Linked DNA regions of Homo sapiens: region 1 is linked to region 2. The links come from fine-mapping of genetic effects on gene expression. Tissue or cell type: fibroblasts. Region 2 holds a variant in brackets; the other region holds the start of a gene. All regions are shown on one strand. Distances are between the middles of the regions.

Evidence for each region. PIP is the estimated chance that this variant, and not a neighbour inherited with it, causes the effect.
Region 1: it holds the start of ADGRG6, and the variant in region 2 is fine-mapped to the expression of ADGRG6 in fibroblasts (GTEx, PIP 0.92).

The regions. Positions count from the first base shown.
Region 1 is chr6:142,300,346-142,303,111 of GRCh38, reverse strand. It overlaps ADGRG6 (adhesion G protein-coupled receptor G6), which reads right to left and starts at 1,105. Exons shown (of 25, transcript NM_198569.3): 1 at 781-1,105. The coding sequence starts at 782. RefSeq lists a silencer at 1,176-1,315.
Region 2 is chr6:142,328,168-142,330,933 of GRCh38, reverse strand. The region is part of intron 2 of ADGRG6 (adhesion G protein-coupled receptor G6); the gene reads right to left. Among named protein-coding and RNA genes, the nearest start is that of ADGRG6, 28 kb to the right of the region's middle. The variant A/G (reference allele first, on the strand shown) is at 1,534.

The DNA.
Region 1 (2,766 bases), 28 kb after region 2:
AAATAAGCTTGGCCCTTTGGAGTACAATCTTCCTTTTCCCATTCTGGAAAGCCAGACGGTGCTTGGCGACCCTTTCATGGGGTCGCTGTGCGCCACCTCACCATTAGGATGACAATTCTATGGAGGCAAAACCTTTTAGGTTTCTCTGTTTCAATGCCCCAATTCCCCACGCCCCCCATAAGTCTATGGAAGTCCCCTCAAATCCTATCACGTAACGTGGCGTAACCCTTAATTACTTCCTAAACTACAAAGCACACTGAAAACATTTTCTGCACACCTTAAAAAAATTCAAACACCCCAAAGATCCAAGAATAACTTCTACAGTCAATGGTGACAATGTGTAAAGTCAACATTTTCTCGGCATACTAGTACCTTCCAAGCCCCCAGGTGTTGATTCCGGAGAGCGCCTTCTTGGCAGGGCCAGGCCTCTGGACTGAGGAGCGGTGCCTGTTACTCCTTGTTTAATTTGAATTGAAAACACGTTTTCCCCATTCTTGAAGCCCTGCCCTTCTTATTAGGCTTTACACCGCCCAAATGTGAGGTTTACCTCGCTGGGGGAAAAAAAACAGCCACACACACATGTCACAACTCCACTTGGCAATAGTCCTACTCCTCAGTGCCTCGAGGGGCAAACTGAAGACAAACCGGTTTATTCCCTCCGTGCAGTTGAAGTCCTTATAAAATCATTTCTCTTGAGGGTGGGGTGGTCGGGGAGGGGGCGACAGAAGGTGGACACAGATAAAAGAGTGAAGGAATTCCAAGCTGAAAGGTGAGACTTACATGTTGACATTACTGCGCCGAGGTCCCCTTTGGCCGCAAGATCATCCTCCACCACTTTCCCGCTCTGCTGCCGCTGCTCCACCCAGGGGGAACCCAGGCGCCCCAGCCCTGCGCCGCGGCGGGACCCTCCTTTACGCCGTTTCTGGAGAGTTCATGGGCTTTCCCGACGGCGCAAGGTGAACCCTGGGCGCGGCAGCGTTCAGCGCAGGGCCTGCGGACGAGGAAGCAGGCTGGCGGCAGGTCCCTCCTCGCAGGGAAGTTGGCAGGGTGAGGGCGAGAAGCTGAGGAAGTAGGGTGTGCGTGGGGCTGGTGCTGAGGAGACCGGGCCAGGCAGGGGTGCGCGTCGCAGGTCCTCGCCCCCGCTGGCGGGAGGCGGGACTCGGCCACCACCCTAGGTACTTGGGTCCCCCTCGCGGGCGCAGGCGACTCTCCCCGGACCCGTGCGCTCCGCCCGCGCTTCCGGCGTGACTGGAGCTGGGCTCAGGTGCGGCGGCCCCGGCGGCGTGCGGCGTATGACCCGACTCCGGCTGCCCTGGTCTGGGCGCTCCGCGGCTGGGGCTGTCCCGAAGGCGCAGCTGCCCCACACAGGATCTTCAACCCCAGGGCCGAAAGGGAGAAGTCGCCCCGCGGGGCGGGACAGGCGCTTTTGGAGCGAGCAGCGAAGGGAGAGTGGCCGGGGTCGGCGATGGGCGCAGAGCCGGGCTCAGCTCCCCAGCTGGGAGGGGACAGGGCGGACCCGGAGGTCGCCGAAACGCCGGGAGCGCTGAACCCCAGAGACCCTCGGCGAGAGAAAGGAGAAGCTGGGAAGGCAGGCGCTCCTGTGGCATCTCCCCAGCGTTTGCAGCCTACCCGAGTCCCCGCGCGGGTCCCCCCGCCACGCTCCCGGGCTGTTGCTTTGCTTCACTTTTCTGCCACTTTCTTTACTTAACTTTTCTGTCTTCTCTGACTAGTTCGCTTGCTCGAAAAAATGAAGGGATTTTAACGGGGGGCTGGGAAGATGGTCACATAACATTTTATTGAGAGGGATTGATTTGCCAACGTAAATCCAGCTGCTTGTTGGGGAAAGTTAGCTGCCTGCTCTCCAATGCTCCTGTAAAGTAGCTGTCTGGCAAAGGGATCTGGACACACCTCCTTGGGAATGAGAAGAGAGAAGGGCTCACACTTGGAAAGAGGTTTTCTTCCCATTGTGTACTGCCAGAGTTAGTCCACAAAATGCTAGAGGCAAACCTTCCGGTGCCAGGGCTGTATGCACATCCAGAACCTCAACAGCTCAGCTTGCACGGTGTACACACTGGCACATGCACAGGCCATACACAGAAGTGCCCTAACAATTATTTCAAGCTGATTAGCTTATGATAGAGAGCTGTTGGTGGGTGCGGGGGGTGGGAAGGAGGTAAAGCAGGACTTACTCACAGTTACAGGCAGAAAGGAAGCTGGAACGCTGCCACCAATTCCAGAGGCCTGAACATCTAGGGTGTGTTCTACTTGTCATTTTTATCAGTATTCATTTTGATGAATAAACGGTATGATTAATAGAGACGCTGAGTTGTAGCATTTAAGGGAAGCTAAAGTTCTTCTGCCCAACTGTCTCACGTTAACAGGTAGGGAAATGAGACTGACAAGATCTGAGGTCTGTGCACACTAGCTAGAGGTGACCAGGGGCTAAGATTAGGTTTCCAGACTACCCTTTTGAGTCAGTCGCTATTACACGGTATAGTCCCAAAGAAATTTAAGGGCCACTCTTGGAATTTTTTAAAAGCAACATGTATTTCACAGTTTGTGGGTCAAGAACCTGGATGCCCTTAGCTCAGTGTCTCTCAGGAGGCCACAATTGGAGTGGTGACTAAGGCTGTGGTCTGATCTGAAGGCTGGACAGGGGAAAGATCTACTTCCAAGTTCACATATGTATTTGTTCCAGTCATAGAATTTTAAAGTTAGAAGAAACCTGGAAACATAAGAGCAAATAAATATAAATAACTGCCAGGC
Region 2 (2,766 bases):
AGAAACAATTCTGAATTTGTTTACATGGGAAAGAATTATATACTCTAAAAATATTGGCTATAGTTCCTCTGATGTATAATAAATTGAAAATCAATTTTTCAAGGTCGAAAGAGCATGTTTTTATACTCTGGTTTTGAAAATGGAAAGAGTAAGTTGTAAATTCCTCCTCCTCAAAACCCCAAATTAATGACAATCAGGGGAAAAGGCATATACAATATTTGCAACTTTCAGCCCACTAAATGCATTCCATACTATAAGGTTATAGAAAATCAAATCCATCTTCTTCTCAAGCATATTTTATTCCTCTTCCTGAAGGGAAAGGCAAAACTGTAATACATCATCTGTTTCTTGATTCTGAACAGAGAACAGAAATCTCTGAATCTAAAAATGGATCTGGTGACCTAGTATATTACATTGAGGGTTAGGGGAAGCCCTTTCCTTAATATGGTTTTCATGATTAATGAATGGCATTGCCATATTTACTCCCACATCTTTCCGGCTTGCATGAGCTTGTTTGGCTGAGAATAACATCAAGAAAAAAATGTTTTCACCACCGAATTTTTTTTCCACATTTTATTTCATTTTTTTTTAACTTGTAAGTTCAGGAGTACATGTGCAGGTTTGTTACACAGGTAAATTTGGGTCACGGGGGTTTGCTGTACAGATTATTTCATCAGCCAGGTATTAAGCCCATTAGTTATTTTTCCTGATCCAATGCAGCCATTAAAAAGAACGAGATCATGTCCTTTGGAGGGACATGGATGGAGCTGGAGGCCATTATCCTTAGTAAACTAACACACGAACAGAAAACCAAATACCACCTAATTCTTAACCTCTCCCTTTTAAAAAAAATTGCAGTGGCAAAAAAAAAAAATTGCAGTGGCAAATGAAAAATTTCTTCCAGCAGAATATGTTGTTTTCCTTGCCAGAGCCTAGTAGAGACTAAAATAAAGAAGCACACAACTGCAGGCTATATATGGGCTGCAGTGGAGAGTGAAGTTCATCAGTGCTCACGTATCTCACCTTTACACAGCTGTCTTCCCAGCCTCCTCCTTTTCTACTCCCTTCCTATAAGTGGCAGATATGTGACTGTTGTCATTGCACTGCAATTAGAAAAACTTAGAGAAGAATAAGATATCTTAAGGAGTAACCAAGAATGCATTAGCTACTGAAGTATTTGTACACCAATGTTTAAATGAAAAAGAAACCCTCAAGGCAGGAATACCTATTCACCACTCTAAGGTCCTTTCATTTACCCTTTGTGTTGATCACAAACATGACTCAATGATGGGAGCTTTTTCTACAAACAATGATTATTCACTAAGGGAAGGGGGAAATGCTAGTTTATATTAAATTCACTCACGTTGTGACAATTTTTGTTTTAGTAAGGACTGTGATGATCTCGTAAGGTAACAAAATAGATGCAAAAGGCTGCAGAAGATGGCTGATGCTTATACAATTATTTTCTTCCCTTTCAAAAGTGAAAATATTAGAGAAAAATGAAGAAAATAACCTTCAAATATTTTGGCATAA[A/G]TGTCTTCTTTATAGCTACTTTTAGTTACTAATAAATTATTAAAATGAAATTGCAAACAACACTCAGAAAGGAAAAAATATGGCTAATGAGCCATGAAGATTATATATTACCCCAGAAACTCTCCCAAATTGGTTGTCTCCCCAAAAGTTCATTTTTAAAGTCCTTGGTTGAAACTTAAAATATTACTTTCCAAAACAATACTTCATGATTCATTGTGCAAATAACTGTGCTAAATAATAACAACTATAGCTAACATTTTACTTATTTAATTATCACAAAGACCTCAGAAGGCAGGAAGTACCATGACTGCATTTCACAGAGAAGTAACTTTTCCAGGGCCCATATGAAGTGTAAGTAATAACACCAGTATTCCAACTTACAGTTCATCTTCAGAGCCCACACACTGAACCATTATACTCTACTACCATCTCAGGGAGCCAATGTGGGGATGTGGATATAAGTAAGAAAAATATTATAAATGCTGGACAGACTTTTTAGGTAGCTCAGGACAAAAATTAAACTACAATTTACCTCAATGTCAATTTCATCGATTAAGAGTTTAAAACAGTCCAATTTTAGCTAACATCGAAATCACCTGGAAAGCTTGGGCAAACACAAGTCAATGAGCGCTACCCCAGACTTTCTGACTCAGTAGGTCTGTAATGACGCCCAAGGATTTGCATTTCTATGGCATTCCCTGGTGATACTCTACTGTTGGTTCCAAGACCAGACTTCACTTGAAAAACCACTGGTATAAAACTCTCTGGCAATACTTATAATTGAAACATAATAGAAGAAATTTTGTTGAGTACAATTACTGAACTATAATTAGATTTAAAAAACACAACCTGACTCCTGGCTATCAAGATGAAAGAAATGGAATCAGAAAAGGATAAGCAGGTCAGCCCAGTGGCTCACACCTGTAATTCCAGAACTTTGGGAGGCCAAGGTGGGAAGATCACTTGAGCTCATAAGATCGAGACCAGCTGGGCAACATGGTGAAACACCATCTCTACAAAATACACAAAAATTAGCCAGGCATGGAGATGTGTGCCTATAGTCCCAGCTACTCAGGAGGCTGAGGTGGGAGGAGGGCTTGAGTCCAGGAGGCAGAGGTTGCAGTGAGCTGAAATCATGCCACTGCACTTCAGCCTGGACAACACAGCAAGACCTTGTCTCAAAAAAACAAAACAAAACAAAAGGATAAGCATGTAAGGAGGTGTAAACCTCCA